Regions from separate parts of the Homo sapiens genome. Here region 1 is linked to region 2. The links come from fine-mapping of genetic effects on gene expression. A gene starts in region 2. The other region holds a variant in brackets. All regions are shown on one strand. Distances are between the middles of the regions. Region 1 overlaps LOC124901332 (a long non-coding RNA gene). Region 2 holds the start of ELOVL5 (ELOVL fatty acid elongase 5).

Region 1 (16,652 bases), 100 kb after region 2:
AGCCTCCTGATTGATTTTGGTTTTCTTTGTGTGCAACTTTGAATCCCTGTCTCATATTTGGGTCAGAGCAATGGGAGGGACACATGACTTGCTTTAAAATTAGCCTCAAAACTCATTGTATAACAGCTCTCGTTTTCACTAAATGGAATGATTTCTTGAGAAGACAAGCACAGCATTTGTAATAAGCCTGCATAGTTGAGTCGCCATGGAGAAAATTGTTTACAGTCACCAAAACACTCAATGTTTCCACCTGTAAAATGGGGTGTAGATTTAGTTTGAAAGAAAAGAAATAAAGGATAACAAAATAAAAGTAACCACCTCATCCAGAACCCCCATACACACACACTTACACAAAAACACACACACAGTCTTTGGGCTGGCCAGCAGATAAAGAACAATCTCTTCTAGTCCCCAGTAGACTGGACAAAGATAGACAAGGAAAGAAATCCTGTCTAAGTCATACTATTACCAGAGTCTAGACTTCACGTTCTGATAGTTTAATGAGCTCAGAGAACATATTTTAAGTCTTAAGAAAACAAACTTATTTCTGACTTTATAAAGGTTTCTCCTGGGAGAAGAAACTAACAAAAAATCATTCTGATTGCTGTCCTTCTCCAAAGACCGTTTCCCAAGATTTCTGATTCGTTTGGCAACATCTGCAAATAAACCCAAATGACCCAGAGGCAAAATAGCTGCAAAGAACTGTATGTGACTAAGCATGGCTAAAATGTTTCTTTATAGCAAGGAAAGTTTTCCCTTGGTCTTCTGAGTTAGATAAATGGTTGATTATAATTTATGTATCACTTCTGAGGGGTGGTACAGAGCTGAAGGTTGAGGGGGCAAGTGCTAAAATATTTGAACCACCGTTTAAGTAGGGGGCCAAAGAACACAGAACTATCAACCCGGAACCACCAAGAATAGGGCTTGTCTGTAACAGCTCCATATGTGACCAGGCAGCGAGGCTTCAGCCTGTGCTTCAAGTAGGTCTTACCGTCACACAGATCTAGGTTCAGATCCCAGCTCAGCCACTTGCTAGCCATGTGGCCTCAGGCAAGCTGCTTGCTCCATTTGAACCTCAATTTCCTCATCTGTAAATTGGGGTAAATAATCACGCCAATCTTATGAGGCTGTTGTGAGATTCAAATGAGATAATGCTTGTAAAAGGGGCTTCACAGAGGGCCTGGCACATAGTTATTAGTCACTGTTAAATGACATGGTAAATGCTCATGGTTATTAGTCACTGTTATCATCAGCCCTAGTGCCTGTGGCTGCAGTAACAAATTGCCACAAACTTGGTGCTTAAAACAACAGATACCTATTATTTCACAGTCCCAGAGGCCAGAAATCCAATATCAAGCTATGGGCAGGGCCTATTCCCTCCGAAGGCTATAACTTGACTCTCATTCTTGGCCTGTGGCTGCATCACTCCAGTCTCTGCCCCTGTAATCATATGGCCTTCTCCTCTTCTCCGACTCCCCTCTGTCTCTTATAAAATCACTTGTCATTGAATTTAGGGCCCACACAGATAATCCAACATGAGCTTATCTCAAGATTCCTAATTTAACACATCTGTAAAGACTCTTTTTCCAAAAAAAGGTTGTATTTATAAGTTCCAGGGATTCGAATGTGGACATTCTAATGGGAGACACCATTCAATCCACTATAGTAATATTTGTATGGTTATTTAGCAAGGGGTGCAGCATTGGCCTTCAAGGACTAGGGTAGGGGGTCCTGGACCCTCACTTTAGAAGGTCCTCGGTCACTTCACATTCACCATTGGCTCAGTGCAACTTGTAACCCTGAACACCAGTCATGACTAACATCATTTAGGTGCCAGGGGACCTCTAAATCTTCTGCCCCGTGTTCTCCAAACAAAAGGTAATGACATCCAGAGCTGTGATGGTTTGTAGGTTGTACTTCTGCTGGCATCAGACACAGACACTGCCTTGGGGAGTGAGGAGAACTGGGGTAACAGGAGCTCCTTGGTAAGAGGAAAGACAGCTCTCCAAAATCTTCCTCTCAGCCTGAATGCAAGAGTCTTGTTTCCCTTCATGTTCCAATTTAAGATTCTGGAGTTACTCATCAATTAGCACAATATTCACAACAGTTCATGTTAGTCTTTAGTCTTTTTTTTTTTTTTTTTTTTTTTGAGACGGAGTCTCACTCTGTCACCCAGGCTGGAGAACAATGGCACGATCTTGGCTCACTGCAACCTCCACCTCTTGAGTTCAAGTGATTCTCCAGCCTCAGCCTCCTGAGTAGCTGGGACCACAGGTGCATGCCACCATGCCTGGCTAATTTTTGTATTTTTAGTAGAGACGGGGTTTCACTACGTTGGCCAGGCTGGTCTCAAACTCCTGACCTCATGATCCGCCTCCCAAAGTGCTGGGATTACAGGCGTGAGCCACCGTGCCCAGCCTTCATGTTAGTCTTAAAGGTGTGTATATGTAGGTCTGCACATGTAAGCATGAAACGTGATAGCAACCCTTCACAAAACTATATAGGTATAGATTTTTAAGACATTATTATAAGAAATCTTGAAAATCATTATGTAAGTGATAGTAATTTATGGGATGAAATTAAACTATTTTGTGATAGTCCCTGTGATAATGGCAATATACCATATGCAACCCAATTATAATGACTGACATAAAATTCATGATTCATTTCCAAATGGAAGGGTTGCTTTAAGAATTTTAATGACAATTGCAATTGCTACTGCCTCTGCCGAGCAGCTTCTAATGGAAACTTGAAAAAATGAAAAGAAAAACTAAGATTCAAGAAAGGTAATCTAATTAGGTATTACTGTTAATAGAACACAAATTATGTGAAAATATTGATTATAACAACATAATTGTAATTTTCCTGAAATGAAAGCAAGAAACATTAATTTTATGGATAAATATATAATGCATGAATTGTATATGTCTTCAGTATGCATTCACACATGTCAGCCCATTAACAGAACACCTACAGGCATGTAATAATGAAGTCCAGTTATTTCTTCTTGTTTTTGCAAACTTTCAGTCATATAAAAACCGTAAATTTCACTTTTCCCCCATTTTCTTGCTATGAAAGTATATTTGACAAAGTACAAAGATGGAAGAAAGTTTATTTAAATATTAGACATTTGCTGGGCGTGGTGGCTAATCCTTGTAATCCCAGCATTTTGGGAGGCCAAGATGAGAGGATTGTTGGAACCCAAGAGGTTGAGGCTGCAGTGAGCTGTGATTGCGCCACTGCACTCCAGCCTGGGTGACAGAGCAAGACCCTGTCTCAAAAGAAACAAAATTAGACAGTTGTTGTGTAGGTCTCCATTCACACTCTCACCCTCTGCAACTCTGCAATGTTAGGGTTAGTCTGACCCTATGGTTCAAGGTCTCCAACTATAACGTGGACACATCTGCACTTAATGGGCGTTTTCTTGACTTAGAATCTTTCTCTGTCCTTTGGCTGCATGATACCTTCCTTGCCCTTGTAGAAAGAGGGCTAACATGTCTAGTCTTCCAAGGTCATCAAAGGAAGATTTTTCTACAACATCCAGTGCATAGGAATTTATGCAGCAGATCATGATTTACTTTATAGAACACATCCCCTGAACTAGATGCAGTTAATAGCCTTGGGCCATTAGTGTTTGAACCTTAGAAGGAATTTTAGAGGTCTGCCCTCACTTGCAAAAGTGCAGTGCTCTTGTTGATCACCTAGGTCCTAAATTTATCAATGAATATGCTCATCAGGCCAGATGCACAGAAGCGACTTTGCACAGTCTCTCCTAGCTGTCCATTTTGCTTTTTTCTCCTTTAGAATATTCTTAAGCCACCTTACACTCATTCCTACAGAATCAATTGCCTTTGTTTCTCACCATGTGTCATACTAAAATTCTAATCCTGCTGGTAAGAAAGTTTAGTACCCCTCAGAGCTCGGAGGCCCCATATGTCATGTCTGCCCCTCAAGGTTTACATGAGTAAGCCTCTGCCTCACAGGCTATGTAAGATGTAGTGTGCATGGTGGAGGCTTGCTCCCATAGGAACTCTGCAGGTACTCACTATGGGGGCGCTGACACGCAGCTCTGCGCTCCCAGCTAGGGTTGGAGATAAGGTGCCATCCACTCTCCTAGCCTAGCCCCACTCCTGATCCTCCCTGAGGGGACATTCTTTCCTAATTCATCCAGCCAGAGATGCACCTTTTCTAATTCTCCTAACGGCACTTGTAAAGGCTGGAGGTGGCACTACTTGCATCCAAGTCTCTCCACCATCCTTGTTTCCTCCCTCCTCTACAAATCAGGGGTCAGGAGGACAGACAGTGAACCTAGATGAAGTGAAACAACCATGTAAGATAATAGGTTCCAAGCTGTTTATATTGCAAGCAAGCATATCCCCTGCCCAGGTGAATTGCCTTTTGAAACCTGTGCTTGCATAACAAATGGAAAACAACCAGAGTGCAACCCCTGAACGAATTAGACTTGAGCTCTTCTGACCTGGATCCTGCCCTGGCCAAGTTACAGGCCAGTATGCAAACCAGCTGGATGCTCTTGGTGGCTCCCAGCCAGCCCACCAGCTCCAGCAACAGGCCCCTTACAAGGTTCCCTCGGTTTTTGTGTCCTTGCAGCCTCAAAGACTCTTTCCAGGCTTGCAGGCTCCCCCTTTTTGGTGTGTTGTGTCCCCTTACCTATTCTTTCAGTGTATACCAGTGGTTCCCAACTGGGGTGATTTTTGTCTCCTCCCCCTGGGGACATTTGACAAGGCCTGGAGACATTTTTTGTTGTCACATCCTGGGGCAGGGTGCCACTGCATCAGATGGGTGGAGTCCGGGGATGCTGCTAACCTGCCTACAATGCACGGGACACCCACACAACAAATAATTATGTGGTTCACAATGACAACAGGACCAGGACTGAGAAATTCTTATTGCACACCCTCTGCCTGGATCCTTTTACTTGCATGTGATTCTTACTCTTTTATTGACCTTTGGACTAATACTTCACCACCCTTTGTCCCAAGCCTAATTCTCACCTGGATGTAGATGTCATGTTCCTTTTTATTCCACATCCTGAAGCCACTAAGCAAAGGCACGGGTGCCTTCACCTCACCAGGTTCCTATACATTCTTCAAACACTGGAGCTCTGCAATTATTTCAGGCCATTCTGTGGCTCTTCCTACCACCTCCACACCTGAAAGTCAAGCAGCGCCTGTAGGATCAATCTGGTTAATGCTGATACATTCTCGGTTTTTAAATAGTGTGATTTTAGACTTTTAGTTCTATTGGTGAAGGTACAATATATAATAGAAAGAAACTCCAACAATCCCATACTAAACCTTTGCCCTTTGCTCGGGCTCTTAAAGGATTCACGTGCTTCCAGCTCGTAACTAGTGTTGTCCTACTTTTGCTTGTATTGTAATTGATCTCCTTTCTTGGGTTTTTTTTTCTTTTCTTTTCTCACATAAACCTTCTCTACCTTTTGTACTGCTTGTCTCACATACTATTAAGCCTAATTTGAATTTTTTGTTATAGTCTTCAGTTTCCCAACACTGTTTATACTTCTTTAAACAATAGATTTCATCTGCATGGTAGACAGAATGCCCATGAGTCCCAAGATGTCCATGTCCTAATTCCTAGAACTTGTAGATATGTTACCTTATATGGCAAAGGGGACTTTGCAGATGTGATGAGATGGGGGGATTATCCTAAATTATCTAGGTGAGCTTAATAGAATGCATGAGCCCTTAAAAGGGGAGAACCAGGCCTGGTGTGGTGGCTCACACCTGTGCTCCCAGCACTTTGGGAGGCCAAGGCAGGCGGATCACCTGAGGTCAGGAGTTCAAGACCAGCCTGGCCAACATGTCAAAACCCCGAGAGTCCATCTCCAGTGTTTGAGACGGGGTTTCACTCTGTCGCCCAACAGGAGGGCATATATCCTCTATCTCCCATTACCAAAGATTGATTCAGGCATCCCTTCTTGATCTTTCTAGGAGCTGTGAAGTTGCAGAATTTTGGTTTATTGGGATGCATCCTGGTGCTTGCCTACAGATCTTGTTTTGCAAGTAAGAACAGAAGACTCTGGCCGGGCGTGGTAGATTATGTCTGTAATCCCAGCACTTTGGGAGGCCAAGGGGGGGCGGATCACCTGAGGTCAGGAATTCAAGACAAGCCTGGCCAACATGGCGAAACCCCATCTCTACTAAAAATACAAAAATCAGCCAGGTGTGGTAGCACGCACCTGTAATCCCAGCTAGTCTGGAGGCTGAGACAGGAGAATCACTTGAACCCGGGAGGCAGAGGTTGCAGTAAGCCGAGATCGCACCACTGCACTCCAGCCTGGGTGACTCTGTCTCACAGAAAAAAAAAAAAAAAAAAACCACAGGAGACTCTAGGGAGGCCACCAGGCCTGTCAAGGTTGCATGGTTCTCAGGTGGCAGGCTGGTATCACACCCCCCGCCCTGACTCACAAACTGTTCCTATTTTCATTTCCTTCCCCTTAAAAAAAGTAGAACTATCTCACTGATGTAAGAAGAACATACTTGGCTTTTTTTCTCGTAAGGAGTCTTAAAAAACACACTGATAGTTGACACTGTATATATCAAGGTTTTCTGGCAAAAATTTCCATGGAATGTAGTTCAGAGAGATGCTCCAGAAAAATTTTTAAAAAGCCTCTGTGGTCAAATAAGCTTGGAAAATGCAGTATGTTTGTTCCTGCCTTGGAATGTCATCACATACATAAGCTTAATAAAACTTCTCAGAAGTCTATAGTAAAGAAGTTCTAGTTCAGTTTTCCCTTTTCATATAACACCCATTAGCAGGAGGCAAGAAATGCTAGTACAGAAGTGGCTTCATGTCTTTTCTCTGTCCCTTTCACTTGTTGCGTGGCTGGTTTAGCACTGTAGGTGGCTCTGGCCTGAGTACGCAATGTGACCCTTTGGGAGTCAAGCAGGTGAGTGCATCCCAGAGCCTGCTGATTACCACCCATTCTTCCTTCCTTTCTCATCGACGGGAACCCCATTTTATGTGGGTCAATGAGTGCTGAGGCTCCCTTGAAGCTTGGTGTGGCCATGTGACATAGTTCTAACCCATGAGATGGGAACAGAAGTCTCTAGAGGGACTTTCAGAAAAGCTCATACATGCATTTTTCTTCATCATTCATTTTCCTGCCTAGAGTGCAGAGGCAATACATGGAGATGCAGCAGCCATCTTGTGACCATGAGGACAAAGATCATTTACCAAGGATGACAGAAGAGAAAGTTAGCAAGAGCCTTGACCCCTGATGAGGTGAAGTCATTTCACCAGCCTATCACAGCTTCTAGTCTTCTTGGGAATGTAAGAAAAACAAACTGTTATTTGCTTAAGCTCTTATAGCTAAGTTTCTGTTCCGTGCAGCTATTATTCTAATCAAAATAATGTTTCAGTGTTTATTCCTGAATATCACATAATTTTGCTCTGTAGGTGTCATCTTGGCTTTCTTTATGAATGGCAATTACTGGCTGGGTGCGGTGGCTGAGATGGGTGGATCACTTGAGGTCAGGAGTTCGAGACCAGCCTGGCCAACATGGTAAAACCCTGTCTCTACTAAAAATACAAAAAAATTAGCCAGGTGTGGTGCCACATGCCTGTAATCGCAGCTACTTTGGAGGCTGAGGTAGGAGAATCACTTGAACCCAGGAGGCGGAAGTTGCACTGAGCCAAGATATCACCATTGCACTCCACCCTGGGCAACAAGAGTGAAACTCTGTCTCAAAAAAAAAAAAAAAGAAAAAGAAAAGAGAAAAGAAAAGAAAAGAAAGGCAATTACTGGATAGGGTCTAAGAAGTTTACAAAGCAGGCCAGCAACAGCATCAAGTCATTCAAGTCAGTGTTTCTCAATGTGGCCCCCAGACCAGCAGCCTCAGCACCACCTGGGAACGTATTAGAAGTGCACATCCTCCGACCTCGCCCTAGACCTGCTGAACCTGAGACTCCAGGGGTGGGGCCCAGCAACTGGTGTTTCAGCAAGCCCTCCTGGTGCTCCTTACATACGAACTTTTTAGAACCATTTTAGAACTTAGTTTAGAACTAACATTTTAGAATTTAGTTACACATTCAACCTCAATGAATTTGTAAACCCAC[G/A]AAAGGTCACTTTGAATGAAATAGTTGAGTTTGAACAGCAAGACTCATGCCCACACCTAACAACAGAGCACAGGCTTTGTGAGAAAAGGTGTCTGGCTTTGCCTTGGAAATTCAAACTGAGATAGAAGTACTATAAAGGGGCCAGGTGTGGTGGCTCACGCCTGTAATCCCAGCACTTTGGGAGGCCGAGGTGGGCGGATCACGAGGTCAGGAGATCGAGACCTTCCTGGTTAACACGGTGAAACCCCGTCTCTACTAAAAATACAAAAAATTAGCCAGGCATGGTGGCATGTGCCTGTAGTCCCAGCTACTCGGGAGGCTGAGGCAGGAGAATCGCTTGAACCCAGGAGGTGGAGGTTGCAGTGAGCAGAAGGAGCAACTCTGTCTCAAAAAAAAAAAAAAAGTACTATGAAGGTAACAGTGACAGAAATGGAAGCTACCACCACTTAAAGAGTGTGGTTAATTGTGGTTCATGTCAAGGTACCAAGAGGCTAGTGTTGCAATTTTCTTTTCTCTACACTTTGCTTTGCTTTGAGATGGAGTCTCACTCGGCTGCCCAGGCTGGAGTGCGGTGGTGTGATCTCAGCTCACTGCAACCTTTGCCACCTGGACTCAAGCGATTCTCCTGCCTCGGTCTCCCGAGTAGCTGGGATTACAGGCGTGCGCCACCACACCTGGCTAATTTTTGTATTTTTAGTAGAGACATGGTTTCACTATGTTGCCCAAGCAGGAGTCTTGAACTCCTGACCTCAATTAATCTGCCCACCTCATTCTCCCAAAGTGCTGGGATTACAAGCATGAGCCACTGCTCCCAGCCAGTATTGCAATTTTCACAGGAGGCTTTCACTTTACCTTTTCTTAATAACATACTGTTCCCTTGCCTCCAACTTGGTTCACTGGATAGAGTATATAGATAAGATTTGTACAAATCTCAGCAATTTAAGAATTTGCAAATGTGCATAGGAGTGAAGACAAGGTAAGAGTGCGATTAGAAATGCTCAGTGTGGCTGGAAATGTAATGAGCATGCTTTATTCTCACTCTCAACTTGAGATCTCCAAACTCACTCTATTCCATCCCACGGTATCTGCTTTCTCCTTTCTATTAAGCAACCAACCATTACTGAGCATTCTCGATTTTCCAAGGAAGGTGCTCATATATTTTTGGTGAATCCCATGAAGCCCATATTTGTAGCGGACATATGCTGTAATCCCAGAAGCAGAAGGGACCTGGTCCTCCTTTCTCCACTCTCCCCACACTGTGGAAGCTTCAGGGCACAGAGGCGATTGAGAGTTGCTCAGCAGCAGTGGTGCTGAGCATTTAGCTCTGGCCACAATATCCGGTGGCCAGTGCAGTTGATGTCAACATCAGTTTCCCAACCAGACCAACCCTGAGGCTTTGCCCTGCATGACTTTCCCTGCTCCCTGAGCTCCCTTAGGTTCTGCTAAGCCTGGTTCTATAGCCTTCCCTTCTATTGTGTGAATTGTCCAAAACTGATTCAATAAATTCCTCTTTTGCCTAAGCAAGCCAGAGTCACTTTCTGTTCGCTTTCAACTTAGAAGTCAAAGTAACATAATATTATTGCCATCTTTTTTAAGTGAAGACACTGACATTTGGAGGTCAAGGAACTTGCCAGATGTGTAATACCCAGCCTCCAAGATGGCCCCCAGTGATCTTCACCTCTTAGGTATTTATTTGCATAGTCTACTCCCATGTTGAATTAGGACTGGTCTGTGTAGAGTTCAGCAGGGATAATATGTGACTTCTGAATTGAGAGCATAAAGGACTTTGCAGCATCTGTCTTGCTCTCTTGGATTGCTTACTCTGGGCAAAGCCAGCACCATGCTGTGAGAATGTATTTACCATGTCTTTTATTTTTGTATTTTTATGCCTGTCCCAGGACTAGCCAGTTTTTAGAAATAGCAAACAACCATGAGGGTGCGTCACAAATGTAAACCAATCAATCCAGAGCCCACACACTGCCACCTCCATTATGGGCTCTCACCCTCCAGGCCACTATCCACCTGCCCTAATCACCCCAGGAGTAGGAACTAGGCAACTAGGGATAGCCCGTATGGCCCAGAGCCTGCTGAAATGATTCAAACTATTCAATCCAAAGCCCAATTACCCTCCCTCACTCATTCCTTCCCACAGAAACCACAATAAAAGTTTGTGCCCCTGGCCAGGCGCGGTGGGTCACGCCTGTAATCCCAGCACTTTGGGAGGCCAGGGCGGGCAGATCACAAGTTCAGGAGAATGAGACTACCCTGGCTAACACAGTGAAACCCCGTTTCTACTAAAAATACAAAAAATTAGCTGGGTATGGTGGCACACACCTGTAGTCCCAGCTACTCGGGAAGTTGAGGCAGGAGAATCACTTGAACTCAGGAGACAGAGGTTGCAGTGAGCCAAGATCTCACCACTGCACTCTAGCATGGCAATAGAGCGAGACTCCATCTCAAAAAAAAAAAGTTTGTGCCCCTGTTTTCACTCTGCTCCCTCTGCCTCCTGACTGATCTTGGTACTTCCCCATGTGGCTGGTGTGACACACCCCTTCCTCTTGAGATCTGTGAGCATAACAAACTATCTTTTTATTAGCAGTCATTCCTGATCTGATGGCTTTGCCATACCTAAATATTAATAAAACCTATATTTTAAACAGAGAACACTCAAGTACCATGTGGTGAAGCCCATATGGAGAGGAACTGAGGCCTCCCACCACAGCCAGCCCCCATTGGCCAGCCAAGTGAGTGGGCCTCCTTGGAAGCAGACCCACCAGCCCCAGTTGAACCTTCAGATTAGGGCAGCCCCAGCCCACACCCATCTGCAGTCTCATGAGAGGAGAGAATCTAAGCCAGACTTCCCATTCAAAAAGATCCAAAATTTGCAACCTACAGAAACAGAGACAATACATGCTTATTGTTATTTCAAGCCACTAAATTTTGAAGTAATTTGTTCCTCAGTAATGGCTTCTAAGTGGAGGAACTGATTCCTCCACTAACCCCACTTGGGGTTTCTTGTTGCCTCTCCAGTGTGCCAGTGTGAAAAATAGCAAGATACCTTGGGCTTCTGACTCAAACAGTAAGAAAAAAATTGTAATTTCACATAACAAGAATTCAAGATGTAGAGAGCATCTAGGGTAGATTAACAAAGCAGCCCAGTGATCTCACTCAGGCCCCAGATGATTCTCTTCATTTCTCTGCTCACTCAGCCTGTCAGCTGATCATTCTCTTTTTCAAAAGATGGCAGCAGCATTGCAAGCATCTCATACAGACAGCGCAGTTGAGCGCTGTTATTGGTTTAGACCAATGGGAGCACAGTTATTGGTTTAGACCGATTATCAATGGGAGTGCAGTGATTGGCTTAGGCCAATAACCAATGGGAGCATAGTGATCAGTTTTCCTTTGGGGATGAAGCTTAAGAGTTCTTCACTTGATCACATAGGGCTGGGGACACCCTTGAACAAAATCCAGGTTCTGGCAACAAGGAAAACCTATGCACAAGGGTTGGGGTGACGAATGACTTAGGTACATTATCTTCTATATAAGCCATCAAGGGGCCAGCTGCACTAGCGAGAAGGGCAATAGAGGCCCAGAGAAGGTGTCGGGAAAGCAGAAGAGTCGGGGCAGGTAGGTCAGGGCCAGTTGGAGGGCCTTGGGCTTTACACACAGAATGAATAACCTGAATGAGTCATTACCTAAACCACTGTTCCTTCACTCCATTCTCCCTCCTGAGAATGGGTTATGCACCTGCTCACACATGTGACTGTTCTTTCACATCACCAGTTTGGGTTGGGATGACATGACCCAGCTGCCTCCAGAAGCCTCCCAGCCAATGGACCCAGAGCAGGCTGTGGGCAAATCAGTCAGGTGGTGGCTGCTGATTGGAATTCATCCACATTCTCAGGGTGGAGAGCAGCAGATGTGTGCAGCCTCCTCCCCTATGGAGGGGATGCTATTTGTTTAAATGGTGGTTGGTGATGCCAGAAACACTTGGCCTCATTTATCTGGATATAGAATAATCCAGCACAAATAGATCAGTAGTAGTAGTACAGCAGCGATAGTAGCCCAACCCTTTTACTTTGTAGACATAGAAAACCAAGTTCATGTTGAAGTGACTTGGCCAGGATCACAAAGACCAAACTAGAACTAAGACTGAGTCTTAAGACTCTTGCTTTGATTCTGTTTCTCATTATACCTTGTAGGAAAAGTTTCTATGCCAAATTCTAGGCCAGATCTATAACGTCATTTTTCTGAGAAACAAAACTGCTTTAGGTAAGTTGTTCTAATAGTTCCTCAAGTTCATCTGAAATCTACTAATTATGTTTGATATGGAGACTTATTTTTAATGTTGTGTAATTAGACTTGCAAGTTCCACCCTTAAAACTTTTTATCTGTTGTTTACCAACACAGGCCAAGATTCCAGCTAATAATATTTTCAACCACTTTTGTCATTCTCCAATAAATTACATAGAAAATTGTCAAGAGTAATTCCTGGCCGGTCATGGTGGCTCACACCTGTAATCTCAGCACTTTGGGAGGCCTAGGCAGGCAGATCACGAGGTCAGGAGTTTGGGACCAGCCTGACCAACATGGTGATACCCCATCTCTACTAAAAATACAAACAAACAAACAAAAAATTAGCCGGGCGTGGTGGTGCGCACCTGTAATCCCAGCTACTCAGGAGGCTGAGGCAGGAGAATCACTTGAACCCAGGAGGCAGAGGTTGCAGTGAGCCAAGATTGCGCCACTGCACTCCAGCCTGCACAACAAAGTGAGACTCTGTCTCAAAAAAAAGAAAAAGTAATTCCTTTCCAGTGACAGCAGAAATCAGAGACTTCAAGTCTCCAGTTCAAGTTCACTGGACTCATTACTTCAAAGGGAGTATAATAAGCTCCCTGAGATTATCTTTCTGAAGTAACTCTTTTCTGTCTATCAGCTGACTTGCAACTGATTGTGTACTTGACACAGATCCACATGACTCGGTGCAATGGGAATAGTCCAGCAGTTTTGAATTCTCAGATGATTTTCGCTCTTTGTTTCTTGTCTTGTTTGAAGAGATCAAAAGGGAGCTCTATCGCTGTGTGATAAGTATGTTTCTATCACTGTTTTCCATAGCTTTCCCTTCCAAGATCCATTATAACTTTGGAAATGTGGTGAAATGTGTCTTACCAGACTAAATCTGGTAAGGTTTAGTCTAGGGGTGTGTGTGTGTGTGTGTGTATGTGTGTGTGTGCATGCACGCATGCCCGCATGTATGCTAGGAGTAGGCAGAGTGGGGAAAGGAGGTAATGTGGGGGTTGCAATTGTAGCACTTGGATGAAAACATGGATGTTTAGCACACATCTACAATAAACATGATCTTCATTATTTTTAGTTAGCCACATTATTATTATACCCAGAAAAATAATTTTAAAAGCTTTCAAAGGTTAAAGAAATGATTCACAGCAGATAATCAGAATCTAAGTTGGCAGTCTGTTCAGTACCCATCACTACTTCTCCCACTAATTTTCAGATTGCCAACTTGCTATCAGTAAAACATTCTTAGTCAAGCAAACGATTTAACAATTATTTGTCCTCATCCACTTTTGCACACAGGTGAATAAGCTAATGTGGGCTGGAAACAAGATTAGAAACAAACTCTGATTAAACCATTCATTCATCAAATGTACATTAAACACTTACTATCCGACAGGTTTTGTATTACGAGAAAAGAAACAGTAAACAGGAGGCTGGGTGCAGTCACTCGCACCTGTAATCCCAGTACTTTGGGAGGCCAAGGTGGGTGGATCACCTGAGGTCAGGAGTTCGAGACCAGCCTGACCAACATGGTGAAACCCTATCTCTACTAAAAATACAAAAATTAGCCGGGTGTGGTGGCACATGCCTGTAATCCCAGCTACTTGGGAGGCTGAGGCAGGAGAATCGCTTGAACCAGGGAGATGGAGGCTGCAGTGAGCTGAGATCGCACCACTGCACTCCAGCCCGGGTGACAGAGCGAGACTCTCTCAACAACAACAACAACAAGAAACAGTAAACAGGAAAAGAAAAAAGGTTTCCATTCAGTAGAACCCTGTGCTGGAGTCCTGGACAGCATGCATGGCCACACACTGGCGAGGCACCAGTCTTGGTGTGAGCAAGGAGACAGTGCAGGAAAGCCTTCAGGAGGAGGTGATGTCGGAACTAAATGTGGAAGGACAGGTGAGAGTAGACAGACATGGAGGTAAAGGGAACAGGAGAAAGAAAGGCTTGGAGGTGTGAGGCGGGAGCGTGCATGTCAAGGACCTCACAGTTAACATGGCGGGGGGCGGGGGTGGGGTCAGCGGGGGGAATGAGAAGGATGGAGGCAGAGGGTCGGGGGCTCATGCGGGGCTGGGTTGGCTTTGCCAGGAGATCAGACTAAATCCTGATAGCCGTGAGAGCTATTGTAGAAATAATTTCAAGCTGATCAGATTTATTTGGGTTTACTGTAGGAGGGAGGAGGCTGTTTTTGTGTATTTGTTTAATCTTTTTTGGACAAGCCTTAAGATTAGTAAAGGACTATACGAGGTCCTTAATATTGAAAGAGCCAATATATACCGTCATACATTCTTCCAACATTCTCGTTATTCACGTAGTGCATTCAGATAAATATATTCTCAACAAATATTTCCTTCATTTGTAACATCTAGGCAGAGGTGGGCAAGAGCAGATAAAAGAGATGGCAAACTTTGATGACCTTCTTTATATGCCTCAAGGCCTCACCACTGATATGTCATTGAGTATTTCACACTGGCTTCCTCTGACTCTTTTCATCAAGGTCTTAACAACCATTGTGTCAACATGTGACCTTATAAACTGTACACAAGGACCCTTTTTGGGACAACATGATCATGGGAGAGAAATCTCTCCCCTTGCCTCCCTCTTCCTACCCATCTGTGCTTCTGCCTGAAGTCATCGGTATTTCAGAGATTAAAACTGTTCTTTAGGTCTTAGCCACCAGTTTTTATTTGCATGAGCCATACCAAAGAAACTGAGAAATTGCTTTTGTGGCTTGTCTACTTGGAACTTTGAAAAGAATGAACAGTAACATTCTCAGTCAGATTCAGATTTCATGTAAAACCTGCTTTAGAGAACTGAAGGATAAGACATGCTTATTTACAACTTTTAAATTATTATCCTCTCGATAGAGACAGCACCAGGGAAAGTGAAAGCCAGACAGGCACTGGGCGACTCTGTGCCTCACTGAGGAAAAATTACTCAACATGAGCAAAGGAGATCCTAAGAAGCCAAGAGGCGAAATGTCATCGTACGCATTTTTGTGCAAACTTGTCAGGAGGAGCATAAGAAGAAGCATCCAGATGCTTAGGTCAACTTCTCAGAGTTTTCTAAGAAGTGCTTAGAGAGGTGGAAGACCATGTCTGCTAAAGAGAAAGGAAAATTTGAAGATACGGCAAAGGCGGACAAGGCCCATAATGAAAGAGAAATGAAAATCTATATCCCTTCTAAAGGGGAGACAAGAAAGAAGTTCAAGGATCCCAAGGCACCCAAGAGGCCTCCTTCAGCCTTTTTTTCTATTCTGTTCTGAGTATTGCCCAAAACATCCTGGCCTGTCCATTGGTGATGCTGCGAAGAGACTGGGAGAGATGTGGAATGACACTGCTGCAGGTGACAAGCAGCCTTAGGAGAAGAAGGCTGCAAAGCCGAAGGAAAAATGCGAAAAGGGTCTTGCTGCATATCGAGCTAAAGGAAAGCCTGATGCAGCAAAAAAGGGAGTTGTCAAGGCTGAAAAAAAGCAAGAAAAAGAGGAGGAAGCTGAGGAAAATGAAGAGGGTGAGGAGGGGGAAGATAAAGAGATGAAGATGAAGAAGACAATGATAATGAATAAGTTGGTTCTAGTTTTTTTTTTTCTTGTCTGTAAAGCATTTAGCCCGCCTGTACACAACTCACTCCTTTTAAAGAAAAAAAATGAAATGTAAGGCTGTGTAAAATTTGTTTTTAAACCATACATTCTATTTTTTTGTATAATTAACACATTACCGAAATGTTTCTTTAGATAGCGATGTCTTGGTGGTATTTTTTTCTTTTTATATTTTGAGACTGAGTCTCCTCTGTCACCCAGGCTGGAGTGCAATGGCACCATCTTGGCTCACTCCATCCTCTGCCTCCTGGGTTCAAGCGATTTCCCTGCTTCGGCCTCCTGAGTAGCTGGGATTACAGGCACACGCCACCATGCCCTGCTAGTATTTTCAATAACCACTAACCTTGCCTGGTAAAGTATGGGGGTTGTAAATTGGCATGAAAATTTCAAACAGGTTCTTTTTGGTGCACAGCGCAAATTAGTTATACATGGTGATGGTAGTTTTTTTCATCTTCAGTTGTCTCTGATGCAGCTTATACCAAATAATTGTTGTTCCATTAACTGAATACCACTCTATAATTGAAAAAAAAAGTTGCAGCTGTTTTGTTGACATTTTGTTGACATTCTGAATGCTTCTAAGTAAATACAAATTTTTTTCCTTTTTTTTTTTTTTTGAGACTGAGGTTTGCTCTTGTTGCCCAGGCTGGAGTGCAATGGT
Region 2 (16,652 bases):
AGTTCTCATGCACATGGACTGTCTGCACATTTTTGAAAGTGCTAACAGGTACATAGGTAACCAAAGTATAGCGCTTATTTGGTGAATCTTCATCCTCATTACGTTTTCTGGACAACTGCACACGGATTCGGTACGGGACATTCCTTATTCCTTTGGCGCAGAGAGCTTTGTTGAACCTGCTATCAATGCGCACACTTAGAGTTTCCACCTCTTTGATGGCAAATTTCGGAATCTCTCTGAGTGCCCGAGGGGCACGCTTCTTGAAGCGCACTCCATGGATGCGCTTGTGAATGTTGATGGTGTATTCTTGGATCACCACCTCATTGATGGCAGAATGACCCTTTGCTTCTCGCCACCCTTCTTTGCAGGAGCCGTTCTGCCGCGTCCAAGTTGGAAAGGGAGAACTGATACTTGAATTTAAATTCTAATTCTGCACTAACTGGCTGTGCAGCCTTGGTCATGTCATTTAACTCTTCTGTGGCTCAATTTGTTTGTCTCATTATAATGTTGGAAGCATAAGGGAAAGAATTGTTACGAACCTGGATTCATCACTGAAATAAATATAACAGTTTTTATGTCAAGAGAAAGTGCTTGATATTCAAGATAACTGATGCATGCATAGAAAGGGTAAGATATCCCAAATTCATAGCAATTTCAGACTAAATAATGTTTTGTTTTCATTAAAAGTATAGTTACAGTCTTTTTAATAGCACTTTAAAAATGTTAAATATTCCTTTGGAGCATGTTAATTTTTCACATTTTAAAATTTCAGAAAGGCAAAAGGAGAAATTTGTTGTATCTACTGTAACAGGGAACAGAAAAATTATACTCAGATAATATTTTTAAAACTATTGTAGTTAGTGTTTTCTTTCTCTTTGACTTAATTTTTAGTCAAATGATACCTAGTAAAAACATATATTATTGACTTGCATTTCAATTTTACATTAATTCATTTGTTCCTTTACCAATTCAGTAAATATTTGTTGAGCTCCTACCAAGTGCCAGGTAGTGTTCGAAGTGCTGGGGAAACAGTGGTGAAGAGAACAAAGTCTGTGTCCTCAATGAGCTTATGGGGCTGTGGGGATAATACACAAATATTAAAAAGTAAATCTATACTATGCCAGAATGTTAAGTGCTAAGGAGAAACATAAAGTGTTCCAGAGTGTGAAAGGCAGGGAGGGAGGTGTTGCAAATTTAAAGGGAGTGATCCAGGGGAACTCCCTAAGGAAATGACAGTGATGTAGCAACCAGCATGAAGCAAGGATGTAAGTCTTGGAGATTTCTGGGTTAGATTATTCTAGGCATGAGGTAAAGAGTAAATGCAAAGGCCCTGACGCAGTCTAGTACTTGGTGTGCTCAAGATATTTCTTGGGGCCATTGTGGGTGGAAGACAGAGTAGCTGTTTAAAGTCAGAGAAATGGCAAGTTGCAAAATCATGAAGGATCTTATAGGCCATTGTAAAGATTTTGACTTTTACTATCAGGGAGATGAGAAATTGCTAGATGACATTGAGCAGACATGTGACGTGATTTGGCTTTGGTTTTAAAAGGATCACTCTGGCACCTGGTTTGGGAATAGACTGTAGGCAGCAAAGACAGAAGTAGAGGTCTGGTTAGAAGACCATTACAACATTCTAGGCAATGGTTGATAGTGACTTAAACCAGGTGGTCATGTTGGAGATGGTAAAAAGCAAACACATTCTGGATATGTTTCAAAGGTCAAGTAGTAGAGTGTTGCTGATGCACTGGATGTAGTAGGTGAGAAAAAAAGAGGAGCTAAAGGTAACTCCAAGGTGTCTGATCTGAGAAACGGGGTCCATAGAATTGTCATTTACAAATCTGGGGACTACTGTGGAAGATCAGGTTTGAAGGCCAGTTAAGAGTTCATTTTTTGTTATGCTTAATTTGAGATGTCTTTTGGATATCTCATTTATGAATATATCTCATTTAGAGAAGTCATTAATAAGTAGTTAAGTACGTAAGTCTGGAAATCAGGGAAAATGTGTGGGCTGGAGAAATACACTTGGAAGTCAGCCGACCATAGATGAAATCCAAACACATGAAAGGGGATGATATCACCTGCAAAGGAAATGTGGATACAGAAGACTGGGATGCAGATCTCTTTCATTGCCCAGTCACTTCTGGAGACAGTACTAAAGAGTGTAAAAGGAAGTGGAGAAGAAAATCTAGAGAATCCAGAAATTGTACAAATTGTTCATTCATTAATCGAATATTTATGAACATTTGTGATTTGCCAGAAATTCTGCTAGTCATTAAGAAAACAATATAGCAGACCAGGCATGGGCAGTGTCTTCAAGTAGTTCATGTTCATCAAGATGAACACTCAAGGACAAGGACAGAGATAAACTGCAGGACATATTGTTGAACAGCAATGAAGAAAAGGAATAGCAAAGTAACAATTGAAGTATGGAACTGACTCCAAGGTCTGAGGAGGACAAGAAACTGCCTTTAATCTACCTCTGCCTCCGACAAAGACAAGCCAGGTGGCCTGTGGGAATTCTGGGCAGCAAGATAATAGAAAACACAAATTAGAACAGAAGAAAAAAGGATTGTGGGGGGAGGCGGAGAACGTAGGAACCAACAGAGACTGCAGTGTCATCTTTAGCATAAAATAGCTGCTACTTGACCTATATTTTAGTCAACTTTGATATGTCCAGAGGCAAACATTGGCTTATATCTTTTCTGGAAGGATGTGTTTCATTATGTCATGCAAATACGTCCTAATGAAACAAGTTTCACTAATCAGAATTGTATTCTAATGAAAGTTCCAATTGTATTTTTTAATTCAACTGCAGCTGCTATAACAATAAAACAAATTGCCTAGGATGTTAAGTACTTTCCTTTTCAAAAGCAATACTGAAGCAACCTTCTAATACACTTAGAAGTGTGTGGTTTGAGGAGATTTGAGCTCAATGATGAAAACTAAGAGCAAAAGGAAAAATATTACCAGAATTTAAAAACAAATAGAAGGCCAGGCACAGTGGCTCACGCCTGTAATCCCAGCACTTTAGGGGGCCGAGGTGGGTGGATCACCTGAGTTCGGGAGTTCAAGACCAGCCTGGCCAACATGGCGAAACTCCATCTCTACTAAAAATACAAAAAAATTAGCCAGGTGTGGTGGCGGGCGCTCCCAGCTACTTGGGAGGCTGAGGCAGGAGAATTGCTTGAACCTGGGAGGTGGAGGTTGCAATGAGCCAAGATCGTGCCATTGCACCCCAGCCTGAGCAACAAGAGCGAAACTCCATCTCAAAAATAAATAAATAAATAAATAAATAAATACATGAAGGAGAAAGAAGAAAATATTAATAGTTAGCTATTGAATGAAGATAATTCAACAATCATTTCTTGGGGGACTACCATGTGGATGCTATGAACAAACAGGTAATAGTTACAAGGTTTTGTTAACTGTACCTTACATGGGCTCACATTGTTGGATAGGTGGGTTAGAAGGGCAAGGATGGCTTCAGCACAGTTTCCAGAACCCAGCTGGCCAGGAATCTGATTCTGATGCTACCTAAAACAGGTTCCTTGAGCCCTGTTATTTAGTAAGCCTGGCATTGGATCCTAGGTATTCTTTTGATTTATTTGGAAAAAATCCCACAGTTAAGTTGGGGAGTCGTTTCGGCTCCACTGTTTTTCTTACAGCTTTACTCATGAGTGCAATGATGCAGAAATACGAAGTAATTGTTAGGGTGGGAGGAAGTTTCCCCCAGAGATATATGACACATGATAAACATTACATTGTAATATGTAAAATAATACATTTGCATATATATATATGTTCTGAGAACTCTAAGTCTCTGGCTGGAGAACTAATGAGAACATGACCGTACCAACATGTTTGAGAGGAGTTAATAATCTAATAATCCTGGGATGTGACTATCTGACAGAGGATTGGAACTCTGGAGCTGAAAAGTGATGGTGATGGTGAGGGGGAGTAACTGTTCACAGATTCACTCATCTAACACGTATTTATTGAGCCCTTATATGCCAGGGATTGTACTAAGATCTACAGATCAATAAGGAGCAAAATTCAACATGTTTTCCCCTTCAACGGAGTTTACTACCTAAAGCGGTGGTCTTTAAAGTGGGGTACATATACCCCAAGGATTGAGTGAGATGATGCCATCAGAAAGCAACTACAATACAGGGTGGTGATGCTATAATGGAAACCAAGATACACACATCAACAAAGAACTGTGTAAAAACGCAGCCTTTGGGGGATGGGAAAAAACAGCAAAACGTCATACTTAATCATACAATAAGAAAAATCACTTGATATTTAATGCATAGCTTGACAGTTATATAAGCCTGAACTTAAAGATATTTTGGTCAAATGGGCTTAAAACATTTTATTGATAGGTAAGCACAATTCAAACAAGTGCGGCGTAAAACTTAAGACTTTTGGAATCTCAAGTTAAATTAGAAACTTTTAAAACCTGGAAAGGCAAAACTTAGATGGGATGACAGAGATGAACCCTGGCCTTGGACTACTGGCAGAAGCGTGAAGAATGAAGGAGATATCTCAAAAAAATAGTCTATGCCACCAGCATATGCTTTTCTCATGTCCCTTGATGTCCATAGCAGCATTTACCACTCTGCATTGTAGTTGCTTCCTGACTGTATCATTTTCCAGGCCCAAGAAGTCCTTGAAGGTTTCAAATTTTGAATACCTAACATAGTATCTAGCAAATTGAAGTCATTCAGTGTTTGTGGAGCTCAATGGCAACTGACAATCTCGATTCTTTGTATATGTTTAATTTACTTAATTTGTACATGGTTTGTATACTTGCATTCCTATTGCAATGGCCCACTGCCTGGAACACAGCTGGCACGTGATAAGCATTACATTGTAAATATGTAAAAGAATAAATTTGCCGGCCAGGCTCGGTGACTCACGTCTGTAATCCCAGCACTTTGGCAAGCTGAGGCGAGCGGATTACCTGAGGTCAGGAGTTCGAGACCAGCCTGGCCAACATGGCGAAACCTCATCTCTACTAAAAATACAAAAATTAGTCGGGTGTGGTGGCGCGTGCCTGTAATTCCAGCTACTTGGGAGGCTGAGGCAGGAGAATCGCTTGAACCCGGAAGGTGGAGGTTGCAGTGAGCTGAGATCGCGCCACTGCACTCCAGCCTGGGCAACAGAGCGAGACTCTGTCTCAAAAAAGAAAAAAAAAGAAAAAAAAGAATAAATTTGCCTACATTAAATAGCCGACTGTTAGGTGGATGCACATAGAGGAGTAAGAATACAGCAAGAGGGGCACACGAAGAAAGGCTAAATCTCTGGGGTTTGAATGGGGAAACAGTAGGATACAAAGCTAATGAAGGTCTTTAATTATCCAAATATCAGTGAAAAACAGCAAGGATCTTCCGTTTATGCCCTGAACCCCCTTTGTCTTAAGTGCTTAAATATGCTTAGCTGAAAAGACACTGATTCCATCTTTCCTCATTTAACAATCCTTTAGAATAATTTCTAGAGTAGAAATGGAGTTGATAGTGGCTTCCAAAGAAAAATCAGAATCCCTAAGAAAAATACACGGTAAATCCTTTGCAAGGGAGTTATGGTTACAACAGTTTTGAGTCGTTTTGTTCTTGTTCCTTTATCTTGTTCAACTGCAGACCTTCACTCCGGCGGTCTCCGTGGGCATTTAACCCTTTCAGCTTTAACGATGAAGTGGATCCCCTTCAGCATGACATAACTCATAGAGGAGACCGTAACGAGGGTGGGCTTCTGCCACCCAAATGCGGCCACAGACTCCTGCCACGCCTGGCAGTAAAAAAACCAGAGTTCAGGGCATCGACAACTTCACCGGGGCTATTGCGCAGGCTCTGCGTTCCACGCAGGCTTATTAGGAAGAAAGGGGAAAAAAATTTCCCAGAGACACGTGGAACCGAGGGGCCAACCCCGGCCTAGGCTCTCCACCGCATCGGATTCTGGAATTTACGATCACGAAAGTTCTATTGTCCCGCGATTGGCTCCCGGGCCGCATGACATCATAGCGCTTGATTCATCCTTCGGGTCCCGATTGGCTGGCCGCGCCATTGTGACGTCACGGTCAGCCCACGTTCTGATTGTAGATAGCCGGCGCCTTCCTCTTCCCATCGCGCGGGTCCTAGCCACCGGTGTCTCCTTCTACATCCGCCTCTGCGCCGGCTGCCACCCGCGCTCCCTCCGCCGCCGCCGCCTTGCTGCTGCTCAAAGCTGCTGCCGCCCCTTGGGCTAAAAGGTAAAGCCGTCAGCTCCGGGAAACTTCGTCGGGGGCCGCCGCTCGGCCATGACACCCGCGCGAGCGCGCGGCCGGGAAGCGGTCAGAGAGAACTGCCGTTAGGTCTCGGACCTGGTGCCGAGAAAGAGCTGCCGGGGCAACCCGCGCTCCGCCCGCGGCCTCCAGCTCCGCCGGCTCCGGGGTACAGCCCGGCTCCTCGGGCGCGGGGAAAGGGGTGCGGGTGCGGGCGCGGGCGGCTCGCCCCACGCCGAGGCTGAGGCAGGGCGCTCGGGAGCGTTCTCTGTGCTGCGGTCCCACCTGTGCGCGCTGACAGGCGCCGCGGGGCACGACACCGTGCCCACACCAGACGCGGAGGGATGGATCTGTCCGCCTGGGTCCTCCCGCCCTGCGGGCCGGAGCGCGCGGCGGGAGAGCCGGGGGAGCGCTCTCGGAGGGAGCGCGCTTTCTTTGGAGTCGGCGAAACCCGGGTGAGTTCGAAGAGCCTGTGCGAGGGTCTGCGGGCACCGGGCGCCGCTGGGGGGACTCTCCGGCCTTTCCTTTTTGTCCTGTTCTCTCCGCTTCCGTTAACCCTGCGGACCTTCCGTCCGCCCCTCGGAGGGAAGCCTGCTAGCTCGGGACCGCTTCAGTTTTTATTGAAACCAGACAACGGCAGCCCTTGGTACTCAGGGAGGGATGAGGCTGGTGGGAAAGCGAGAGGGCGGGGACTCGGGGGCGACCGGGGCGGCCCTTTCTGGGAGCCTGATCCCTGGAGAGGCGGGAGCGGTTGGCTGCGAGGGAGGCGCGCGGCGGGGGGGCGGTTGTGCTCTGCGCCGGGGGAGCTAGAGTGTGTGTTGTCTTGCGAGTTGTAAGGAAAAGTGCCTTTTTACTGTTTCCACGCCGGTAAGACTCTCCCACCCCACCACCTCGGGTCGACGGAGCAATGCCTAGAGCAAGAGTTGTTCTTGCTGAACTGCGTCTTGCAACCGTTCCGTGTTCTTGCACTTGGCGGTTCCCCCCGCCCCATCCACAATTGTGAATTAAGCTCCTTGATTGCAAATTTGGAGAATGCATTTGGCCAGTTATGCAAAGTGGCGGAGGTGGCGGGGTCGGGGGCGGGGGGTCTCTTTCGGAAGAATCCAGTGCATGGTTTATTAGCTAGACTGAGGAACCGAGAGGTGCTAGATGGGATTTGTGGGGAGCGAGCAGCCTAATTTGTTTTAAATAGCGGGACCCGTGGCAGGAAGTGCTTCATAGAATTGTACGGAAGAGCTGATGTTGCTTGTCAGGTTTTGTAACTCATTCTCCTAACCGCTTGGCAGATAACCTGTTGGTCTGCACTTGTTTTGCTTGCACGTCTCAGCCAAAAGCATTTCGTGCAGAATCTACAGATAGAAACAGGCGGTTTTGCATTAGATGGCCGTGGACAAACATTTTAGCCTTCCATCTGTGATTGGGGACAAGTGGGTTACTTTTCTGGTAGCTCAGACACTGCCTGGGATTCTCCAGGAAAGCTCTGCACTTGAAAGGGAAATGTTACTCATTTTCCTTTTAGATTTTTACCCTAGATTCTAACTTCTTATTGCCAGGAACTTTTTCTGTACTGTTTCTCTTTTTGCATTTTCGTTTCTATTTCTAATTGAAGACAAAGGGGAAATTTTTATTGATAGTTACAGATAGGTAATGTTACAGAATGTAGTACAGAACTTTGCTGAAAAGCGACAGTAGAAGGCTTACTAAAATTTGATGTTTTTCAAGAAAAATATCTTGTAACTTCAGATATTGACCTCACCTCCTTGACTCAATTTCCTTGTCTATACATGGGGATTTTATGTGGCAGGATCATTGTGGATTTCAAGAGATAATGCAAATGAGAGCCCAGCATTGAGTCTGCCAAATGGTGGTTTGAAAATGTTTCCTTCCCATTCCCTGAAATCAACAGCTTCTTCTTGGTTACAGACCTTAATTTTTGGATGTTCTGTTTGCAAGAATCTTTTTTTCCACTACCTCTTCTTTTGCTCCCTGCATAATGGTTGCTTGTCTTCCTGCTTCTAGAGGTGAGCATCCATCCTTGGGTGTCTTATTTCCAGCTTGAATTACACAAATCAAAGCAAAACTGTTTACTTTTCTTGAGGGTAACTTTGGTGCCTAGGTGGGTAGTTAGTGTGAAGAGAGAGTTTTACCTCTTGCTTTCCTGGCTACATTCTTCTCTCCTAAAAGATTTTGTAATTTTTTTTTTTAATTCCTCCTCTTTGCCTACCAGCTCTTCTGTTATCAAAAGGCTAATCCTCTCATTAGTTACCTGTAAATAAGTCTTTCCTTGAATGCTTTCTGTGTCAGGTACTTATTAATACGCACATGTACATAAACGGTTGCTTTCCACACGTAATTCTTATAACACCTCTGTGAGGTTTTATCCCCCAGTTGTTTTTTAAGAATTGAGGAGCACTATGAAGACACATGCACACGTATGTTTATTGCAGCACCATTTACAATAGCAAAGACTTGGAACCAACTCAAATGCCCATCAATGATAGACTGGATAAAGAAAATGTGGCACATATACACCATGGAATACTATGCAGCCATAAAAAAGATGAGTTCGTGTCTTTTGCAGGGACATGGATGAAGCTGGAAACCATCATCCTCAGCAGACTAACACAGGAACAGAAAACCAAACACTGCATATTCTCACTCATAAGTGGGAGTCGAACAGTGAGAACACATGGACACAGGGAGGGAAACATCACACACCCGGGCCTATCGGGTGGTGGGGGGCAAGGGGAGGGAGAGCATTAGGACAAATTCCTAATGCACGCAGGGCTTAAAACCTAGATGATGGGTTGATAGGTGCAGGAAACCAGCATGGCACATGTATACCTATGTAACAAACATGCACGTTCAGCACATGTATCGCATAACTTAAAGTGGAAGAAAAATAAAAAAGAATCTCTAGGATTAAGGCCTAGAGATGACAAGTGACTTGTCCAAATTCCTATAGCTCTGTCTCCTGCAACATCTCTGCTCCTTCATATATCCCTGTGCTGCCAGGATTATTTGCCCAGTGGGCTCTGTGCCATTATGTAACACTGTTACTCCACAACTTAAAAATCTAACCTTGTGTTTAAAGGTTCTTGTTAATCCATCCAAGACTAACAATTTATTGTCTCTTAAATCTGTCTAAAATCTGTTCCCTTCCTTGTAGCCCACACTTGATTCATTTTTTAAATTAATTCATTGACTTCTCAGTTACTGATTTTGGGTGTGAGGGGCTGGATACAAAAATGAATTACAACAGTTCCTGATTCCAGAGGGTTTCCTGATTTAGTATATACTTTAAGCCTGTATACACATACTTAATCTACACCTTGGACCAAAAGAGAGTCAGAAGCAGATTTCTGGGACACTTATATCTTTATATCTGAGAAAGCTTTATGGCAGAGCTATCCATGTTAAGGGCCTAGCATTCCTGAATTGGTCAGGATGCTTTTGGTGCAAGAAACAGAAAACCCAACTGAGACCTACCTGTGCATCTGACCTGAAAAGTCCTGAGGGCAGGACTTTTGCTCCATTTCTCTGAAGTCCCCTCAGATGTCTGTTATGTCCTAGACTGATTTTCCAAGATGACTGACAGCAGCTGCCACCATAATCTCACATGGGGATTCCCTGACTTCCTGCCACCCTCCAAAGAGTCCTTTACCTTAAGGTGATTGACTTAGGCCTTGGTTACTTGAAGCAATAACTGGAACAGTGGACATTTGATAAGCTGGGGGCCCATCCCAGAACCAGGGAAGTGAAGTTAAATCTCCTCAGCTAGCTGCTTCACCTTTAAGAAGGGCCTGCAGAACACAGGAAGTCAGCTACAGCGTCTGTTTTAAGGACCGAATGGATGATTGGATTAAACTAAATTGACTTGAATTAAAATTAGAATTTAGCCTTACATTTTGTAAAGGACTCTTAGTTGATAGGCAGGAATAGGAGGACATGCGTTCTAGGCAAGAGGGAGTTTGGAGAGTAAGCGAGTGTGGAATCATTGGGCAAAAAGCAAATAGCACAATTGGCAGAAGCTGGTTTAGAAGGCAGGAGTGGAAGAAAAGGTGAGAAAGGCAAGTTATTGATGTAATAATAATGGCTAACTCTTACTGAGCTATTGTATGTCAGACCTTGCACTGAGCCCCTCACAAGGACTTATTTCTATTATTAATGGATGCTACAGCATTCCCATTTTACAGGTGGAAAAAGGCCCAGAGTTTAGACACTTGATTTGGGGTCACAAAGCATTCCAGCTCAGATCACCTTGACACCCTGGCCTGCTCCGTCTCCTAAGGTGTTTGGTAGAATACCACCAATAAGCTTTTGAATAAGAATGAGGACATTATGAGTGCTGTGCTCCAGAAAGACAGTCTTGTTAGAGTGTAGGGTGGATTGTTGTGGGTTTGTTAGAGATGGCCAGGGCAGTGAAAAGGCCTGACCTGAAGCCACAGCCATGAGCACAGACTTGAGAGAGGTAATTGTGAGAGACTGTGTCCAGGATAAGACTTGAAGACCAGTTGGATTTGAGGGCCAGCAAGAGGAGGGATACTCTTCCAAAGAGAAGAGGGAGCTTTGTGATCAGATGGAAATAGCCCCACAGCCTAGATAGATATCCAGACTAGCTGTTTCTTCCAATTCCTCCTCTTCACGGCCAACCTTTGTCTTAGCTATTTTTTTGGTTGCCTTTCTGCAAGAACATGTTTCTACCACATTTCATCTATTGTCAGCTTTTCACATTTCACATCTGGGTAGAGATGGAGCTTATAATCAGTGGCATCTTAAAATCACTGCAGGTAACTTTCCACATTTTAATATTACAGAATTGGGATGCCTCCTACACTTTTCCCTGGTGAGAAAAGGAAAGCCCCAATGTTACCAAAGGTGGTGCAGCCAGATGCTGGCAGAGCCAGGCTTCTGGGCTTCTTCCACCAGCTGGGTTACCTCTGCTCCCATGATAGTTATTAAAACACATGTAGCTTCACGTTACAGGTTTATAGTAAAGTACATACATGTTTGTGTGTTTATTAAAACTGAAGTAATTTGAGAAGATTGGAAGGCATGATTGTTTAAGTAGGGTGCCTCATTCTTGTATAGAATCTGGCTGCCTTGGTTTCTTGTCCTAACTTGAAGAAAATCAACTCTGAGCATTGGTCTCTTTTCCTTTAAAATGAAAGATTAAATTTTATTTTCATTTTTGCCTAGAGCAAATTTTATTTTTTATTTTTGTTTTGTTTCTGTTTGGCCAGGGATAGAGAATGAAAGTGAGATCATTTAGATCTTAGAAAGGTAGATGTTGGCTGGGCACGGTGGCTCACACCTGTAATCCCAGCACTTTGGGAAGCCATGGTGGGCAGATCATTTGAGCTCAGGAGTTTGCAACCAGCCTGGGCAATATGGCAAGACCCCATCTGTACAAAAAATACAAAAATTAGCTGGATGTGGTGGTACATGCCTGTAGTCCCAGCTCCTTGGGAGGCTGAGGTGGGAGGATGACTTCAGTCCAGGAGGCGGAGGTTACAGTGAGCCGTGATTACACCACTGCACTCCGGCCTGGGTGACAGAGCCAGACTCTGTCCCAAAATAAATAAAGAAAGAAGGAAAGGAGGGAGGGAGGGAGGGAAAATGTCAGAACAGTTGATGGAGATTGCAGCAGCAGCAGCAAGCTGCTGGTTTTCTCTTTATGAGATTAAAACATCACTGCTGGAGATGTTCTGGCCTATCCTGACCTGATTTTCAGTTTCTGCAATAGGAACCCTCACCACCAACCCCAGTTTCAACCCGTAAATGTTATTACCAGCCTTTTTGGTTCCCACTGGCGTGTTTGCTCCATGGTAACATTTTTAGTGGACTTGTAGGCATTCACTTTTAGAATTGTGTAGTCTCTGGATTTAAAATATTCATACTTGGTGACCTTTTAGAAAGACTAAATTCCCACTCTTGCTCCTCCATCCTCTTCTGCCAGTTCTGTGTGAAGTACAGTTGTAATTGCATTCAGGCATGAGTATGTCTTAGTATTCCTTATTATTAGATTGGACTTTTTTACCTTTTATTTGATGTCTGCTGGCTGACTGGGATTTAGGGAAAAATTTCTGATTTATTTTAAGATTTTTAGTGCTGATACTGGCATGCTTTCTCTAATTGGGAGAATAACAATTTTATTGAAATATACCTGTGATTTTAAACTGTAATCTTTATGGTTATATTAGGTAGGCACCCTCTTGCGAGCACAGGTTCCATCTCTGTTAAGTTCCACATTTACCCCATCCTTTTCCTCATGTCAACAATTTCATCCTGTCAGAATTAATCTCTTATAAGCCCATGCTGAACAGACCTAATTGAAGCCATGCTGGCGAATTGGCCACTCAGGTCTGTGTTTTATGAGTTTCTGAACCCCAGAGTAGTACTTGTTCCTCTTTGGTCTTGGCACAGCAAATGCTACAACAAAGTGAGTGTTATGAATTTCTCCTTCCCTGAAGAATAGTTCTCATGATACCAAATTCAGTAATTATTCATTTGCTTCCAGGGGAGTTTGAAATGTGATGTATCTCCCTAGGGGTAGTATTCAGGGTACTTCTGCTTCAGTCTTTGGCAGAAGAAATAATACTTCAATATTTACAGAAGTCGTTGACGCCTCCATCAGCTGTATTTGTTAGAAGCATCTGTGTGAAAATTTGAGTTTGCTTCTGTCCGAACTTCTGCATATTAATCTCTGTGATGGATCTGAGGTGCATTTAAAAGAATACCTCCTGTACTTCTTTTAAGTAAGGACAGCTGTGGGAAGCAGATTGGGTTGGCAGCCTGCACCTATGCGGGGTTCCACCTCTGCCACTTAACAGCTGCGTGGGCTTCAGCAGGTAAGTCACTCTACCTCCTTGAGACCCTAGAATCTATGTAGAACTTGGAAGGTGATAATCCTGTGCCTACTTTGGAGGGTATTAAAACTATCAGTATTGTACATGAAAGTTAGGTGGGGCACTGACTTAATTTAATTAGCATAGTAAAAACGTCTCTCTGTTATATAGGATGTTTATTGAAGCATTGTTTCTAATAGCAAAAGATTGGAAGAGTTAGTAGACTAAATGTCCTTGAAAAGAATAAATCATGCTACAGCTGGGCAACGGAATATTCTGCAAATTTTAAAGAGAACAAAGCTGTTCTATGGGTACTGAATATAGCTGCTTGGTACCACATAATAGGCACTTTTCTGAAGTGTTCAACATGTATTAATTCATTGTGGCTTCACAAAAGCCCACGAGGTAGGGACCCCAATTTTACAGATGAGGAAACTAAGATAAAGGTTAAGTCACTTGTCCAAATATCCACAGCTAGTAGGTGGCAGAGGCAGGATTCAAACCCAGGCAGATTGGCTTAAAGACTCTAATCTTGGCCACCCTGCTGTGCTGTACACCTGTCAGACCTAAGTAGTGATCTTTGTATTTGCAGCTTTAGATACATGAGAGGAAACAAGGTTGAGTTTCTTATTCATCGTTACATTCTGGGAGGCTGACGGTATAATCAACATATAGCTTCTGTTGACAGTAACTAAATAAAGGTTTAGATAAAGAAAGCTAATAGGGAATAACATTTATGATCAATACTTGAAAGGGTGACCGTTTGTTTCTTCCATTACTCCTTATTTTAGATATTTTGAACTTAAACCTCTTTTTTGGGGAAAATCAGAAGCGTACACACTGAATAGCTTACAATTGTTAGTGTAAGAAATCAGTGTTCAAAAGCCCAGTTGAGTCAGTGTTCACTAGCCTGACTGGTCTAGTGTGGCTGGATTAGTATGACTGGCCAAGGGCATCCAGCATTGGTTTCCTTACCCGGTCCTAGCCCCATCTGGTTTGATTTACAAGGTATATACGCTCAGAGAAATGCAGACGGGAGGGAAAGACACTCACATTCTTTAGGGAGCCTCTATCTCCAGATTGCCTGATCTCCCTTGGGTGAAAATGTAAGTCAGGTGTACAAGTCGTACAAGTCATGTATAGCTTGACAATGGGAATACTTTTTGAGAAATGTACTCTTAGGCAATTTTGTTGTTGTGTGTTCATCATAGAGTGTACTTAGACAAACCTAGATGGTTACCACATACATAGGGCATATGATATACCACATTGCTCCTAGGCTACAAACCTGTACAGCAAGTTACTGTACTGAATACTGTAGCTAGCTGTAACACAGTGGCAAGTATCTGTATATCTAAATGAAGAAAAGATATAGTAAAAATATAAAAGATAAAAAATGATACAACTATGTAGGGCACTTGCCATGAATGGAGCTTGCAGGACTGGAAGTTGCTCTGGGTAAGTCAGTGAGTGGGGAGTGAATGTGAAGGCCTAGGACTTTACTGTACACTCTAGACTTTATAAACACTGTATACTTAGGCTACATTAGGTTTATAAAAAATATTTTTTGATTAGGTGTGGTGGCTCATGTCTGTAATCTCAGCACTTTGTGAGGTTGAGGTGGGACCAGGCATTTAAGACCAGCCTGGGCAATATCACAAGACTCCATCTCTACTTATTTATAATAAAAGTTTTTTTAAAAATATGTATTATTTTAATATATATTTTTCTTCCTTAATACATAAACTGTAGCTTATTGTAACATTTCTATTTTATAAATTTTTTAAACTTTTTTACTCTTTTGTAATAATACTTAGCTTAAAACACAGGCTGTATGGCTGCAAAAAAAATATTTTATTTCTTCGTATCCTTATTCTTCAAGCTTTTTTTCTCCTTTTAAAGTTTTTTAAACTTTTTTGTTAAAAACTAAAACAAACATACACATTAGCCTAGGTCTGTACAGGGGCAGGATCATCAATGTCACCGTCTTCCATCTCCACATCTTGTCCCACTGAAAGGTCTGTAGGAGCAGTAACACACATGAGCTGTCATTTCCTATGACAACAATGCCTTCTTCTGGAATACCTCCTGAAGGACCTATCTGAAGCTGTTTCATAGTTAACTTTTTAAAATATGTAATTAGAAGGTGTACACTCAATTAATGATAAAAAAGTATAGTATACCAAATACATAAACCAATGACATAGTTCTTTATCATCAGCATCAAGCATTATGTACTGTCCATAATTTTATGTGTGATACTGTTACAGGTCTAGCTATGCAGTAGGTTTATTTACACCAACATCACCACAAATGTTTTATTGTGCTATGATGTCACTAGGCAATAGGAGTTTTTCAGCTCCATTATAATGTTACAGGAGTATCATTGTATATGTGGTCCATTGTTGATTTAAAGGTCATTATGCGATGCGTGACTATATTTTGAAAACATTCTGATAGAGAATGACATTAAGTCATTTTGATACAAGGCCCCATTAAGGGCCACTGTGCTGGGCCATGGTGTTCAGGCTATAGACAAGTCTGCCACCACCTTCAGTTCTCTTAGGATCCTTAGACTCTTTCAGAACTGAGTTTTCTTTCTGGGTGTGGGACACTAGGTTTGGCAACATTGTAATGGCTATAAGTATCAGCATTCCTAAAATAAGAGAATCACAAAATTCATGGGGTGGCTTATATATTCACATGGAATCTGAACAGGTGATAAAACAACTGTTGGTTTCAGAGACATGCTATAGAGGAGATGAATACACAGTTGCTAGACTGTGTGTCCCTTTGAAAAATGCTGTATTGTAGCAGGATTTTCCCCCATTTTTTACACATTTAACTTTGCTTCTCCCTCTCCTCACTCACCCTCACACCCAAACAACAGTTATAAAATGTGGGCGTGTAGATTGAGTTTTAAAAAAGAAATGTGTTTTTGTGTTATATGCCTTATTTATGTTACACAGGCTTGAATTAAAATCTTTTAAGACATTTTCGTTTGGGGGGTTGCATAACTAATCTTTATTATGTTTCTCCACCGTCTTTTAATTTCAGCTTAAGGTATCACTGCCTTTGTATACTTTGCACAAATTAGGTTGGAGAACTCAATTGATAATTTCCTCAAATGATAATTTATTTTGAATATTCAAGTAATCACATCAGTTAAGAGACTGCACTCAGATAAGAACCATCAGCAGTTGCCTGTAGCAGAAAATGTTGCTTAAAAGCCTTTTGAATATTTGTCTCCCTGTTATTTGCAATTGCAGTCTTTTGGTTTAGATGTTTAGAATATGATTGAAGTAGAGCCCAGACTGCTTAAGCTCAGGCTTTAAGGGAACCATTAGAGGCGTGTGTAGTATCTTGGTGTCTGTTACCTACCTTGGCCATTGATTGTCTTCTCTACAAGATGCTTCATCCAAGAAGGAAGTTGCCCTTTGAAACAGGTGCCCTTTGAGCTTCTCCAGAGAGACCCATAAAGACATTATCCCAGGACCTCATGTTTCTAGGAGAATGTGATAAATATTGTGATGGTTTCATTTTCA

What was found.
Region 1: its variant is fine-mapped to the expression of ELOVL5 in whole blood (TOPMed, PIP above 0.99).

What each region holds. Positions count from the first base shown.
Region 1 is chr6:53,234,930-53,251,581 of GRCh38, reverse strand. It overlaps LOC124901332 (a long non-coding RNA gene), which reads left to right. Exons shown (of 4, transcript XR_007059612.1): 2 at 5,970-6,041; 3 at 7,151-7,311; 4 at 7,438-7,537. It also overlaps the pseudogene HMGB1P20. Among named protein-coding and RNA genes, the nearest start is that of MIR5685, 34 kb to the left of the region's middle. The variant G/A (reference allele first, on the strand shown) is at 8,098.
Region 2 is chr6:53,338,412-53,355,063 of GRCh38, reverse strand. It overlaps ELOVL5 (ELOVL fatty acid elongase 5), which reads left to right and starts at 6,114. Exons shown (of 8, transcript NM_021814.5): 1 at 6,114-6,247. It also overlaps the pseudogene RPL31P28. RefSeq lists a silencer at 6,274-6,713.